Regions from separate parts of the Homo sapiens genome. Here region 2 is linked to region 1. Evidence: fine-mapped expression QTL. Tissue or cell type: whole blood. Region 1 holds a variant in brackets; the other region holds the start of a gene. All regions are shown on one strand. Distances are from middle to middle.

Region 1 (8,105 bases):
GACTTATATTAACATCTAGTGATTGGAAATACTTTGTTACACACTTGCCCTAGGCAAAACTCTAATGTTGGTAAAAACCAATTCTTGGCTTCAAAATACAAGAAAACCCTGCTGGCTATTTTTTATTTTGAATCACTCAAAAAAAAAATCATATGAATATCTGAAACTTACTTGTTTGTTCAGGATACCTTTGCCATCTGTGTCGGCTAAATCCCAAATCTGAAATTTAGGGGGAAAAAATATCAATGTATATTTTAAACAAAAGTCATCTGAATGATAAATTAAATCTCTGCTATTTACAACCTCAGGCTCTCTGGTAATCAGATCTAAGAATCATAGAATTAAGAGTGGAAAGAACCCTTAAAGATCATTTAGTGCAAACTTGTCCAACTTGCAGCCCACAGGCCACATGCAGCCCAGGACAGCTTTGCACGTGGCCCAACACAAATCCATAAACTTTCTTTAAGAAATTATGAGGGTTCTTTTATGATTTTTTTTTTTTTTGATCATCAGCTATCATTAGTGTTAATGTATTTTATGTGTGGCCCAAGACAATTCTTCTTCTTTCAATGTGGCCCACGGAAGCCAAAAGATTGGGCACCCCTGATTTAGTGCAACCCTTCACAAAGATACTAAGGCCCAATGAGGGTAAGTGACTTAGCTCAAGAACATTCAAGGCACCAGGGAAAGAAGTGAAGCCTAAGTTCTAACTTCCAGTCACATGCCTTTTTCATTAATCCAAGTTCTAACTCTGAGACCAATGCTCTTTCTACTAGAATGTACATACTATTCTTGATTTTGGATCCTTAAGATATTCTTTTCTATGTGCAAGTTGAGATGATTGATATTTGTGAATAATTAAATTATTGTGATTATTTTTCAGGATTCTGAATATATATCAATATCACATATAAGGAGTAGACAGGGGAGGGGCTTTCCACCTCTTTGTGCTCTTTTTAAAAAGCCTCTCATCCCCCAGTCTATTTACCACACATTAAACAGAGACAGTTATAACAGAGGAAGTAGGGATAGAGCCAAGTCTTTGAGTGTGTGGCAAGATTCCCAGTCTTCACTGTTTCTCCCCACCAAATGTACTTATTACTTCCTCATTTTATCCTATTAAAAAGTAGTTTGTTTCTAAAAATCTGAAAAACACCTTACTTTTCAAGAGGGTAAATCACTACGCTACAAATTCCCTTCATCCTACTATTAAAATGGCTTCTATGACTCGGTTCTAACTTCTAAATTTCTTGATGGCATCTTTCTAAATTTGCATCCAGTTCATCTATAGTACACATTCCTTACAAACTTATAATCTAGTTATAATGAACGAATACTACCTTTCCAAGTATCAAGTCTGGAAGCCCTGATTTTTTCAGGAAAGCAGCAGCATCAGAAGCCAACACCCTTCCAGTATTGCCTGTATCAACCTGAAAAGATACAAATCCGTAAGTTGACAACAAAATACAAAAGGCAAAATTATCACCATTTACCTGCCTTCCATCCCTGTGATTTGGGACCTGGCTTTTGCAAGAAAGGAATGAGAATCCTTTGACTACCATGGGCCAAAGAATATGTGGACAGACATATGAGTAGTACTATCTAGACAGCACTGGCAATTTACAAAGTGGTTTTTGTTTTATCATGCCCTACCATACAAATGAGAAAAGTGAAGCTCAGAGGATTGTCAAAGCAAATTCGTGGGGTTGTAACATCAACACATATCTTCTATAGCTGTCATTTAAATTCCAATTAAATGGCACTAGGAAGAAAGGAGCAGCATTTCCTACAGAGGTCTTCTGACAAATGGGAATAGTTGCACATGTTATGTGCCTCTTCAAACATCTTTCAATCATCAACTTTCACTTTTATACCTACTCTTAGGAACTGCAGCACTTTAAAACAAATCAAAGCAATAGCAGCTCTAAAACCAGCAGTGATTCCAAAATAAACTTGAAGAAACCTTTTTAAAGCTGTTAAGTTCCTAAAACATATTAGGGAACATACCATTTTAACTGACCAGGGACTTTCCTTTAAGACAGAATGAGGTCACAAGAACAGAAACAAACAAACAAACAAACAACAACAACAACAAAAACAGGAAAAAAAAGACTCATTTTTGTAAAGATTTCCTAAAGTTCCATTTGTAAAAATGAAAAGTACATTTTAAAAAGTCATGGGAAAGGTAACAGGATAATAGTATATTTGTGAGATATCTGTTTTTCCAGTTTAGTTAAAAGATTAAGTTTACTGTAAACATATACTGTACAAAGCATTCTAGACAGTCCAATCCTAGCAAAGAAGCAAAAGGGAAAACCTTTCTTTCAAGTGGTACAACATGGGAAAAATCATGCACTCAGCAAAAAAGAAAAACATGGCCTAATCCTTCAAATTTGGAATAAGAGGAAGTATAAGGATTGGGAAACCTGCCTGTAGAATTCTTCAGAACTCCTTTTCTTTGCCTACTTCCTGATCAGCATACAAAACAAATATCCATACCCAACACAGCCTACTAAATATAGAAGCATTCAGGGGAAACATTGATCAAACTCTTATGAAATCATTATGTACTGTATCCCAATTAAGAATTTTACTATCTTCCATTCTTTTGGTTACCCTAATAATATAAACATTTAGTCTTTGTCATCTACAGGCAGTTTCTGAGGTATTCTGCTGCTTGCCTAAAGGCTCTGCCATAGGCAAAGCCAGAAGCTATAGGCCAGAAGCTGATATATCTTCAACAAAGAGTCTTAGAGCCTCATGAAAATGACTATACTTTTGATATAGTCTGTATCTATAAGACATACATAGTCTGAATTATTAACATTTCAAAAAGTGGATTTTTGGATAAAGACTACTCAGCTGACATCACACTACTTTCAGACCATATTGGTAGATGAAGTCAGGATTTCCAGGACTCTTTTCAGTCTGAAAGAAGATGTACTTCATAAAAGCAGACTTCTAATCCGAGATTCAGCTGAACAAGAATTACACAGGACTGAATGAACTGTTGAGGAAAATTTAATTATAGTTATTTACTTGGAATACTGTTGGTATTATTTTAATGTTCTATTTTCTAATAGCTATGTGCATAAGCCCTTTCTGAGACCCTCAACTTAGTAGCCTCTGCTTTTGTAAACCAAATGAAATAGTTTTCTTTTTTTATTATTATTATTATTATACTTTAAGTTCTAGGGTACATGTGCACAACATGCAGGTTTGTTACATATGTATACATGTGCCATGCTGGTGTGCTGCACCCATTAACTCGTCATTTACATTAGGTATATCTCCTAATGCTATCCCTCCCCCCTCCCCCCAACCCACAAAAGGCCACGGTGTGTGATGTTCCCCACCCTGTGTCCAAGTGTTTTCATTGTTCAATTCCCACCTATGAGTGAGAACATGCGGTGTTTGGTTTTTTGTCCTTGCGATAGTTTGCTCAGAATGATGGTTTCCAGCTTCATCCACATCCCTACAAAGGACATGAACTCATCCTTCTTTATGGCTGCATAGTATTCCATGTTGTATAAGTGCCACATTTTCTTAATCCAGTCTATCATTGATGGACATTTGGGTTGGTTCCAAGTCTTTGCTACTGTGAATAGTGCCGCAATAAACATATGTGTGCATGTGTCTTTATAGCAGCATGATTTATAATCCTTTGGGTATATACTCAGTAATGGGACGGCTGGGTCAAATGGTATTTCTAGTTCTAGATCCTTGAGGAATCGCCACACTGTCTTCCACAATGGTTGAATTAGTTTACACTCCCATCAACAGTGTAAAAGTGTTCCTATTTCTCCACATCCTCTCTAACATCTGTTTCCTGACTTTTTAATGATCGCCATTCTAACTGGTGTGAGATGGTATCTCACTGTGGGTTTTATTTGCATTTCTCTGATGACCAGTGATGACAAGCATTTTTTCACGTGCCTGTTGGCTGCATAAATATCTTCTTTTGAGAAGTGTCTGTTCATATCCTTCGCCTACTTTTTGATGGGGTTGTTTGATTTCTTCTGGTAAATTTGTCTAAGTTCTTTGTAGATTCTGGATATTAGCCCTTTGTCAGATGGGTAGATTGTAAAAATTTTCTCCCATCCTGTAGGTTGCCTGTTCACTCTGATTGTAGTTTCTTTTGCTGTGTGGAAGCTCTCTAGTTTAATTAGATACCATTTATCAATTTTGACTTTTGTTGCCATTGCTGTTGGTGTTTTAGTCATGAAGTTCTTGCCCATGCCTATGGCCTGAATGGTATTGCCTAGGTTTTCTTCTAGGGTTTTTATGGGTTTTAGGTCTAACATTTAAGTCTTTAATCCA[T/C]CTTGAAATAATTTTTGTAGAAGGTGTAAGGAACGGATCCAGTTTCAGCTTTCTACATATGGCTAGCCAGTTTTCCCAGCACCATTTATTAAATAGGGAATCCTTTCCCCATTTCTTGTTTTTGTCAGGTTTGTCAAAGATCAGATGACTGTAGATGTGTGGTATTATTTCTGAGGGCTCTGCTCTGTTCCATTGGTCTATATCTCTGTTTTGGTACTAGTCCCATGCTGTTTTGGTTACTGCAGCCTTGTAGCATAGTTTGAAGTCAGGTAGTGTAATGCCTCCAGCTTTGTTCTTTTTGCTTAGGATTGTCTTGGCAATGTGGGCTCATTTTTGAGCCAATGTGGAACCATTTTTGGTTCCATATGAACTTTAAAGTAGTTTTTTTCCAATTCTGTGAAGAAAGTCATTGGTAGCTTGATGGGGATGGCACTGAATCTAAATTACCTTGGGCAGTATGGCCATTTTCATGATATTGATTCTTCCTATCCATGAGTATGGAATGTTCTTCCATTTGTTTGTGTCCTCTTTTATTTCGCTGAGCAGTGGCTTATACTTCTCCTTGAAGAGGTCCTTCACCCTCTTGGGAGCGTGTATGTGTTGAGGAATTTACCCATTTCTTCTAGATTTTCTAGTTTATTTGCATAGAGGTGTTTATAGTAGTCTCTGATGGTATTTTGTATTTCTGTGGGATCAGTGGTGATATTCCCTTTATCATTTTTTATTGCGTCTATTTGATCCTTCTCTCTTTTCTTCTTTATTAGTCTTGCTAGCGGTCTATCAATTTTGTTGATCTTTTCAAAAAACCAGCTCCTGGATTCATTGATTTTTTGAAGGGTTTTTTGTGTCTCTATTTTCTTCAGTTCTGCTCTGATCTTAGTTATTTCTCATTGGTTCCATTTATATGCTGGATTATGTTTATTGATTGCATATGTTGAACCAGCCTTGCATCCCAGGGATGAAACCCATTTGATCATGGTGGATAAGCTTTATGATGTGCTGCTGGATTCGGTTTGCCAGTATTTTATTGAGGATTTTTGCATGGATGTTCATCAGGGATATTGGTCTAAAATTCTCTTTTTTTGTTGTGTCTCTGCCAGGTTTTGGTATCAGGATGATGCTGGCCTCATAAAATGAGTTAGGGAGGATTCCCTCTTTTTCTATTGATTGGAATAGTTTCAGAAAGAATGGTACCAGCTCCTCTTTGTACCTCTGGTAGAATTCGGTTGTGAATCCATCTGGTCCTGGACTTTTTTTGGTTGGTAAGCTATTAATTATCGCCTCAATTTCAGAGCCTGTTATTGGTCTATTCAGAGATACAACTTCTTCCTGGTTTAGTCTTGGGAGGGTGTAGTGTCCAGGAATTTATCCATTTCTTCTAGATTTTCTAGTTTATTTGCATAGAGGTGTTTATAGTAGTCTCTGATGGTAGTTTGTATTTCTGTGGGATCGGTGGTGGTATCCCCTTTATCATTTTTTATTGTGTCTATTTGATTCTTCTCTCTCTGCTTCTTTATTAGTTTTGCTAGTGGTCTATCAATTTTGTTGATCTTTTCAAAAAACCAGCTTCTGGATTCCCTGATTTTTTGAAGGGTTTTTTGTGTCTCTATTTCCTTCAGTTCTGCTCTCATCTTAGTTATTTCTTGCCTTCTGCTAGCTTTTGAATGTGCTGGCTCTTGCTTCTCTAGTTCTTTTAATTGTGATGTTAGGTTGTCAATTTTAGATCTTTCCTGCTTTCTCTTGTGGGCATTTAGTGCTATAAACTTTCCTCTACACACTGCTTTGAATGTGTCCCAGAGGTTCTGGTATGTTGTGTCTTTGTTCTCGTTGGTTTCAAAGAACATCTTTATTTCTGCCTTCATTTCATTATGTACCCAGTAGTCATTCAGGAGCAGGTTGTTCAGTTGCCATGTAGTTGAGTGGTTTTGAGTGAGTTTCTTAATCCTGAATTCTAGTTTGATTGCACTGTGGTCTGAGAGACAGTTTGTTATAATTTCTGTTCTTTTACATTTGCTGAGGAGTGCTTTACTTCCAACTATGTGGTCAATTTTGGAATAGGTGTGGTGTGGTGCTGAAAATAATGTATATTCTGTTGATTTGGGGTGGAGAGTTCTGTAGAGGTCTATTAGGTCCGGTTGGTGCAGAGCTGAGTTCAATTCCTGGATATCCTTGTTAACTGTCTGTCTCACTGATCTGACTAATGTTGACAGTGTGGTGTTAAAGTCTCCCATTATTACTGTGTGGGAGTCTAAGTCTCTTTGTAGGTCTCTAAGGACTTGCTTTATGAATCTGGGTGCTCCTGTATTGGGTGTATATATATTTAGGATAGTTAGCTCTCCTTGTTGAATTGATCCCTTTACCATTATGTAATGGCCTTCTTTGTCTCTTTTGATCTTTGTTGGTTTAAAGTCTGTTTTATCAGACACTAGGATTGCAACCCCTGCTTTTTTTTTGTTTTCCATTTGCTTGGTAGATCTTCATCCATCCCTTTATTTTGAGCCTATGTGTGTCTCTGCACATGAGATGGGTCTCCTGAATACAGCACACTGATGGGTCTTGCCTCTTTATCCAGTTTGCCAGTCTGTGTCTTTTAATTGGAGCATTTAGCCCATTTACATTTAAGGTTAATATTGTTATGTGTGAATTTGATCCTGTCATTATGATGTTAGCTGGTTGTTTCGCTTGTTAGTTGATGCAGTTTCTTCCTAACCTTGATGGTCTTTACAATTTGGCATGTTTTTGCAGTGGCTGGTACCGGTTGTTCCTTTCCATGTTTAGTGCTTCCTTCAGGAGCTCTTGTAAGGCAGGCCTGGTGGTGACAAAATCTCTCAGCATTTGCTTGTCTGTAAAGTATTTTATTTCTCCTTCACTTATGAAGCTTAGTTTGGCTGGATATGAAATTCTGGGTTGAAAATTCTTTTCTTTAAGAATGTTGAACATTGGCCCCCACTCTCTTCTGGCTGGTAGAGTTTCTGCCAAGAGATCAGCTGTTAGTCTGATGGGCTTCCCTTTGTGGGTAACGCGACCTTTCTCTCTGGCTGCTCTTAACATTTTTTCCTTCATTTCAACTTTGGTGAATCTGACAATTATGTGGTCTTGGAGTTGCTCTTCTCGAGGAGTATCTTTGTGGCATTCTCTATATTTCCTGAATTTGAATGTTGGCCTGCCTTGCTAGGTTGGGTAAGTTCTCCTGGATAATATCCTGAAGAGTGTTTTCCAACTTGGTTCCGTTCTCCCCATCACTTTCAGGTACACCAATCAGACGTAGATTTGGTCTTTTTACATAGTCCCATATTTCTTGGAGGCTTTGTTCGTTTCCTTTTACTCTTTTTTCTCTAAACTTCTCTTCTCGCTTCATTTCATTCGAGCTTCAACCACTGATACCTTTTCTTCCACTTGATCGAATTGGCTACTGAAGCTTGTGCTTGCGTCACGTAGTTCTCGTGCCATGGTTTTCAGCTCCATCAGGTCATGTAAGGTCTTCTCTACGCTGTTTATTCTAATTAGCCATTCGTCTAATCTTTTTTCAAGGATTTTAGCTTCTTTGCAATGGGTTCGAACATCCTCCTTTAGCTCAGAGAAGTTTGTTATTACTGATCGTCTGAAGCCTAGTTCTGTCAGCTTGTCAAAGTCATTCTCCATCCAGCTTTGTTCCATTGCTGGCGAGGAGCTCTGTTCCTTTGGAGGAGAAGAGGTGCTCTGATTTTTAGAATTTTCAGCTTTTCTGCTCTGGTTTCTCCCCATCAATAGTATCTGATTCTCACTGACTCCTCAGAATTCAAAAA
Region 2 (8,105 bases), 44 kb after region 1:
CAATGGCATATGCCGAAAAAAAAGAACAAAAAATGTAAGGGAGCGTTGGATAGGCCAAGCATCTAGTACATAGAGAAGAACAGTGAAATAGCTTTTGAAGTCCTACAGACCTTGGTTCAAATCGTAGATTCACCACTTACTAGCTTACTTACTAGCTTCTCTAATTTGTAAAACATATCGTTAGATTCTAAGTGTAGTAAAATTCCTGGCATATAGTAATTCCCAAAGGGAAGTTAACAGTATTATTATTATTAGGGATATGGGCGTTAGGGAGTAAAACTGACTATTGGAAACTTTTTTTTTTTAAGTATTACATGCTTTTTTTCTAATCTACCAACAGAAGCAAAAATCAAGATCTTTCTCCCTCAGGTTTTACTTCTCATTGACAAGAAGTAAACAGAACACCTAGTAAAGACAACTGAATTAGAAAACATTTAAGGCTGTAAAGCACTAAAGAACCCAGAGAAAGTCCACTAGGTCTATAAATCATAGAACACTGTCTATAAAACAGGATCTTAAAAGTTGGAAAGGTCCTTAGATCAGCTAATTCAAACTCCTCTAGCAGAAATAAGTTCCAGGTTTTGTCTCCAAGGTCAAAGAATTGTTAACTATTTTTGTTCATGAGTATATATATCCTCAGTACCTAGAGTAATTCCTAGCACATACTGAATGCTCAGCAAATGTTTGTTGAGTCTCTTTTAAAGTTAAGAAAACTGAGGCCTGGATATTTAACCCAAACCCATACAGTTAGCTGTGGCCAAAGCAGAACTGGAACTAACATTTTGGTACTCTAGCATTCTATCATCTCTAGAAGCTAGACTATAATAATTTAGATAATTTATTTTGGTGGCTGGGGAGTTGAAGGGTTGGTTGGCAAGCTTGGAAAAAGGAAGGAAGGCATAAGCTAAAACATTTTTCACATTTTTTCCCCAAACTCAGTTTTGCTTAATTGGTAAAGGCAAGAAATTATAAACACGATAATCCCAGTACAATGTCTAGTACATAATAGGTACTATAAAAATATTTGCTGAATGAAAATCATCAACATATGAACAGAAGCAGAAATTAACTTGAGCATGTTTAATCTCCATAACTGTTATAGAACCCTTTAGAGCTTTCAGTCATTCCTACAACAGTTATTAATTACTTTCTTCCAGATAGGTACCATGGGAGAAAGATGGATTAAAAGATGTCCCTGCCCTGAATGAGCTCTCACTTGAGTATGCCTATGTCTAAATGTGTGTGCTGGGAGAGTGGGCAGGGTGGGGGGAACAGAGGATGACAAACGGGTCAGTAATGAATGTGAAACCAGGCTGCATTGTTATCTTAGTGTATTGGGCTCAGGCAGTTATAAAAAAATTAAATTAAATTTAAAAACCACAAATCTGCAAAGTTTTGAAGTAACAAGGAGGCACATTAGGGTATACTAGCAACTGGAAATGTTATTTTTTCGTGTGCCTTCGTAATCCCTCTTATTGCCTCTTCATGTTTTAAAATCAGAATATTCTGAATTTACTTATTTGAATTATCAATAAAAATTAACCACCAATGTATATTATCTCATATGTGAGGCACTGAAGGATAATAGCTACTACTGATTCCGTACTTACTGTGTACACATTAATACCTAAATATATAACCCAAGAACATATGTAAATTTTTTAAATGGCTATAAAACTGACAGAGCTTGAAGCAATTCTCCAGAGATGAATGATGTAAATAGAAGCTAAAAACATGGTATTACCCAGGGAGAGAATAAAGTATGCACACAACTGAGAAGCAATTTTACGGAAGTCTTTAAGAGCACAAAATCTTCAAGGGAAAACTCCTGCCAGAATTGGCCAACAGAGCCAGAAAACAACAGCCTGCCAACAGGGATCTTGTTTAATGCAAGTCACTAACTAGACTCACAGAAAGTGAATACCTAAAAGTCAGTGCTGTAGTTGTTCAAATTTGAGTTTTGGGAGGACCCTTCCAAACATACATAACCAAGACTAAACCACCACATTCCATGTTAAAGGGTTCTCTGCTTGTCAGAACAGGACAACCACCACCACCATCAAAAAAACTGGGAAATAGACTTTCCTTATGACACTTAGAATTCCTGCAAACACGGGTTAGTTATTTTACATGAAGCATGTACGTGACTCCTGGTTTCTGAGAAAACATTTTTTTCTCTCTATCCTACAGTGCTAGGCAAAGCACCCCAAAGCCTCTTGATTTTAAACACAGAAAACTCCACTGCCGAAATGTTTGCCCTATCCCAGCGCTAAAGCCTTAGAAGCACCGACGAATCTAGGCCAAGGAGTACAAGATGGCAGTGAGATACCACAATGCAGGCAAGGAAGACGGGATGGGCCCCAATCGGGAAGCACGCGCCACCAGCTCTGGAGAGAACCGTCTGAGGAGACGCGGGGGAGAGTTTGGGTCACAGGAGCAGGAAGGAACTGGCAGGTGTCTGTCACCTTATCATCCCGGACACCATGTTTACATTGTAATTGGCTTCTTTACAGAGAGGGAGGGACCAGGTTCCCAGTGTGAGTGATGTTTAGAGGTTTTCTGAGAAGCACAAGGACTGGACTTTGACAGGAAGCAACGAGGCAAGAGGGAAGCTCGAGAACAGGTTTTGCTGAGGATTCCCCCCAAGAAAAGTGCTCCCCGGGAGGCCGTTCCTGGCACCAAGACTGGCGGAGCCACCACACCCGTTAAAGGGATCCACCTGGACAGCGATCAGGCGTGAGCCCCCCGAGGGGAAGTTGAAGTGGAAGCAGACGTGGGTGGCAAAAGGCTGCATTGGGGGTCTGACCCAGAAGGAAACCTGATCAGGAGGGGGGAGAGGCTGAACGGAGGAAGGGGCCGGCAGAGTGGGTAGTTGAGTAGGATGAGACTTCTTTGGAGGCGAGGCTAACTACATTAAACTCTGGGAAGGGAGGGCTTCCGTCGGACCCTGGGAGAAAGGCAGGTCTGGAGAGGAAAGACTGGCTTGGGGGGCCTGCGCGTCCGGCTCTGGAAGGCAACTCCTACTGGGGGCGGCGCGCAGCCGGCCTGGCGGGCGAGCCTCGTGCGGCCCGGGGGTGCGGCCGGCCCGCGCGAGCTCAACAGGAGCTCACCTGGGATGCGTGCGGCCCTGTGGGAGGAAACTTCCTGGGTAGGTGAAAGCTGCCCCGCGGGAGCCGGCCCGGCACCGGCAGAGCGCGGCCGGGTCACAGTCCACTCGGCAGCGGCGCGGAGGGCGGCGAGGGCCGCGCGGGGCGGGGCAGGAGGCGCCCGACGACCCTGGGCGAGGTCGCGGCGGCCGCAGGGGGGCTCCGGCTCCGGAGGGCGCCCTCCCGCAGTCGCACCCGCTTTCCCTCACACACACCGGCCGCCCGGCCCACAAGCCAAGAAGCTGCCTGCTTGGCCCACAAGCCAAGAAGTCGGCGAAGCTGAGGGCGGTGGGGGAGGGGGCACCGGCCGGCCAAGCCCGGCGGACGGGCGTGTGGCGTTACCTGTGTCAGAGAGAGCTGGGCCGCCGCAGCCATGGTGTTTCCATCATGCAAGGGAGGGGAAGGAAGACGGGCTGACTGGGGCTCGGGGCGGGGAGGAGGCGGAGGGAGCGGCCGCAGGCGAGGCCGGGGCGGGCGGGCGGGCGTCTCCCCTAACTTCCACAACTTCCCTCCCCACGCCCGCCCCGCCCCGCCTGGCCCCGCCCGCCTGCCCGCCCGCCGGAGCCGGCCGCGGCGCCGCCCAAACCCTGGCGCCGGAGTCTCGGCCACCGGACCAGAGCCTGCCCCCGGGGCCGCCTTGGAAAACCCGGCGCGGACATAAAATTAAAGCGGACGGGCTGCGGAGGCGACTGCAGATTGACCTGTGAACTTCAGACAGGCCACCTACCTACGCTGAGCTCCTGCTTCTGAAAAATGGGGGAAATTGTAACTAGAGGCCCAGTTACTTACAAAGACTAAATGAGATAATGATAGAAAATAATAATGGCACTTTATATATGCCAGGCTCTGTACTAGACTCTTATTTTTTGAATTGTATGAATGAAGGAACTGAAACACAAATAAGTGTCTTACTAAGGTCATACAGCTAATTATATAGCTGAATTAGAATCCAAGTCTAACTGTAAATATTTAACCATCTGCTAGTATATTGGAAAAGAAGACATTAAGTCATTCCCTCCCACAGCCAAAATCCATTTGGAAAGGGGAAGCAAAAATGTATTTGCCTGGTGCCTGTCACATTTAGATTGTTTAACAAGGGAACGCTGGTGCCTGTAGCACTCCTAGCTTCTCCCATCATCCACTTAGCAAACTCCTCCTTCTTTCTCAGGACATAATTCAAGTTTCACCTCCTTTGCAAAGTATCTTTTTCTCTTCCTTATGTCAGAGTTACACACTCTCCTTTATAACCTTTCTTCTCTACCTTGTGAAGTCATCACCCTAATGACAGTTTACACCTATCTATCCCTCTAGATTAAGAGCTCCTCAATGGCAAGAACTGTTTTCAATATATTTCTATATCGTCAGACCCTAGCATTACAGTGCATGCTCAGTAAAGGCCTTCGTTCCTGCCTATATTAAACATAACACATCCTACACCTTCTGATGCTGCCAACCTTCAGTTGGAATACCCAGTTACTTGAAATTCATCTTCAAAGTCTCAGAGTATATACCACCTACTTCAAGAAGCCTTCTAGGAACTCCACACCCCACCTCTAAGTTGTTCTGATGTGACCGTTTTTATACTCTGCCTTATCTGTAAGCGTTAGTTGAGGGTTTGTCTCCACCTCACTGCACTGTAAAATCCTTGAGGACAAGGGGCTGACTCACTGCTTTATCTCCCTCATAGTTTAGCCTACCACAGAGGCCTCAATAAATGTATTTGCCCGAATTGGTCTTAATTTCTTAGTCACGATGGCTTCCCATTACAACAAACCACAACTCTATCAGGCCTACACCCATTACCATTATCATAGCAGTCCCCGTGGTAGGAGGGACAACTGAACAAGACCCAGGATGGAGTTAGCCCCACCTAAGTTTTTAGACTATTGCCTCCACAAGCAAACCATTCCAGAAATTTCCCAAGGAACTCCTAATTCTACTCAGACTCCTTCTGGCAAAGGCCAGCTAACAAGAGCAAGCCATATAGGTCTGGTGAGTAACCACTTATTCAAGAGCATCTTCCTTGGCTTCTTTTTTGCTGCTAATCTCTTTAACTGAAGAGAGAATAAGAGATACTGTTTTACATTACTTCACTTTGGTACACTTATCAGCCATAACCACAACCGGTGTTTCTACCGGTGTTTTCTACTTTATATTAGCACATTTGAGCTTCACAACTCTAAAAGGAAGTAATCGTCATACTCACTTTACAAATGAGGTAATGCAGGGTCACAGAGGCTAAGTGATTTGCCCAGGGTTATACAACTGATAGACAAAGCAGCATAGTATAGTGAAATAAATAGGACTCAGACATTAGGAATATCCAGGTTCCATTCCTGGCTCTCCCATTCACTAGTTGTATGCCCTTAGGGTTGTTGTGAGGATGAATGAGATGACATATACAAAAGTGCCTAAACTTGTAGCTACACAAATTATGAAATCTGAAAATCATGGAGCAAATCGCTTTGGGGAGTATAATTTCACTTGCTATTCAAGGGGACTCCTCCAAACCATATGAGATGTAAGATATTCCTCTCAGATGAATAAGGTGGAAACCCTGCCATGTAGTTTCCGGAAAGGCAGTGCAGAGTAGCAAAGAGAATATTAAGAATCAGAGTGTGACCGCAGGCAAACCATTTAACCTCTTTGAGCTTCAGTTTCTCATACAGGAAAAGTAAGGAATTATTACTGTTTTAACTTTTATATGATTTATATTAAGTCAAAAGCACACCTTACCCAGGCATGGTGGCACATGCCTATAGTCCCAGCTACACAGGAGACTGAGGCAGTTGCACAGAGCACGAATTCAGCCTGAGCAACATAGAGAGACCCCATCTCTAATAAATAAATAACACCTTGTATGTATACAGTATTGCTTTTCACCGTTTATAAATGTTTTTATTTTATTTTTATTTTTTTGAGACAAGGTCTCACTCTGTCACCCAGGCTGGAGTGCAACGGTGCAATCTCGGCTCACTGCAACCTCCACCTCCTGGGTTCAAGCGATTCTTGTGCCTCAGCCTCCTGAGTAGCTAGGATTACAGGCACCCGCCACCACACCAGCTAATTTTTTTTTTTCTAGTAGAGACAGGGTTTCACCGTGTTGGCCAGGCTGGTCTCGAACTCCTGACCTCAAGTGATCTGCCTGCCTCGGCTTCCCAAAGTGCTGGGATTACAGGCGTGAGCCACCGTGCCCGGCCAAATGTTTAGAAGCACAACTTCTAATGTTCAGTAAGTACATTATAAAAGTTTGTTGAATTGAACTGAATACAATCTCATATATAATTGTTATTTGGATCTTCACTTTATCCCCATAAGAAAATCAAGGAACAAATATTTTATAAATTTATTTTATAAATAGCTTCTATAAGTAAGAGCCATTGACAGCAGGCTTGGGTCTTGGTTAACAAAAAATAAAAAGAATCAGATGCCCTAGCAAGGGAAGACTTGCTTAAAATCTTTATATGGGAATTGCCCCACGTCCCCTTCCAGACCACTAGTAATTTGTAGTGGCTTCTTTCTTCATTCGTAGGTTCTGGTTTAAATTAATGACATGTAATGGGAGATGGGAGCATGTCTATAGGGAAGAGAATAATGGGCCAAATTCCCAAAAAAGGCCTAGAACTTCTGAGAGAGGTGTTTTTGTTTGTTTGTTTGTTTGTTTGTTTTAATGACAAACCAATGACAATTTGCAAATGTGTGGCCCAGATCTCGTCAGAGCACTGGGTCATATCCCAAATCTATTTTAGGAGAGGAAAAATGTAGCCAATCGAATATATGTTATAATCTAATTCATTATAACAAGAATGAGTTGCATGGAGCAGACAAGAAGAATTTATCTGTTTTTTCTAGGACAACTTAATGTCTCTGGGTCACTAAGCCTCATTTTCCTCATGATTACATTGAAGATAATAATATCTACTTTGTATGGATGGTTTAAGGATTAGAGCTCATGTATAATGGCCTATCAGAGAGACTGGCCTGGAATAGATGTTCAATAAGTAGCAGCTATAAGATACCATTCTTCAAGATCACCATTTAACTCTCTACCCTTCAGGCAACCCTCCAACAACTAAGTTGGTTTGACAGATATATTAGTTACATGAATGGGTCTGCCAGACCAGACCAGGTGGCTCACATTTGTAATTTTAGCACTCTGGAAGGCCGAGGCAGGAGGATTGCATGAGCCCAGGAGTTCAAGACCAGCCTGGGCAACATAGTGAGACCTCGTCTCTATTTTTTTAAAATCAATCAAATAAAAATAAATAAATAAATAAGAATAAGGGTGCTTTGAACAACTGACATATCCCTGTCATTGAAAAAGTAGATGTTCCCTAGGTAAACAAAGTTGTATCTGATGACTTAAATCTGAATACTAATAACCAACAATTGCTGTTTTCTTTTTTTTGTTTTATTTATTTATTTATTTTATTTGAGACAGTGTCTTGCTATGTTGCCTAGGCTGGTCTTCAACTCCTGGGCTCAAGTCATCCTCCTGCCTCAGCCTCCCAAAGTGCTGGGATTATAGGTGTGAGCCACCGCACCCAGACAAATTGCTGCTTTAATGTGCATTATTTCATTTATTCCTCAAAACAGCTCTACAAGGGTTATTTTTAATCTTTTTTTTTTAACAGAAGAAGAATTTGTCCAAATTCATAATGACAAAGCTGGGAATTATACACAATTATACACGGGTCTTCTGATTCAAATGCGCTTTTTCCTGGGGTGTGTTGCTGGTGTCCTGCAGACATTAATCACCACCCAGGAAGACTTGTTAAAATTTTGCCCTTGAACATGGGAAGCTGAAGATGAGGCTCTGGATTTACGATAGCCCTAAATCCAGGATGAGCCTAAAGAGAAGACCTTAAATCATAAACAGCTTTGTCACCAATCATCTTTCTATCCTACTCTAACTCCAACCCCCCTCCCCAACCCATCCTTAAAGGAAATCAAAACTAC

Evidence for each region. PIP is the estimated chance that this variant, and not a neighbour inherited with it, causes the effect.
Region 2: it holds the start of EPS15, and the variant in region 1 is fine-mapped to the expression of EPS15 in whole blood (INTERVAL, PIP 0.97).

The regions. Positions count from the first base shown.
Region 1 is chr1:51,471,519-51,479,623 of GRCh38, forward strand. EPS15 (epidermal growth factor receptor pathway substrate 15) reads right to left here. Exons shown (of 25, transcript NM_001981.3): 3 at 1,341-1,430; 4 at 172-219. Among named protein-coding and RNA genes, the nearest start is that of EPS15-AS1, 43 kb to the right of the region's middle. The variant T/C (reference allele first, on the strand shown) is at 4,321.
Region 2 is chr1:51,515,711-51,523,815 of GRCh38, forward strand. EPS15 (epidermal growth factor receptor pathway substrate 15) reads right to left here and starts at 3,556. Exons shown (of 25, transcript NM_001981.3): 1 at 3,489-3,556. The coding sequence starts at 3,521. It overlaps EPS15-AS1 (EPS15 antisense RNA 1), which reads left to right and starts at 2,562. Exons shown (of 5, transcript NR_183651.1): 1 at 2,562-2,736. It also overlaps a transcript of OSBPL9 not described here. RefSeq lists an enhancer at 2,811-3,739 and silencers at 2,970-3,439, 3,590-3,779.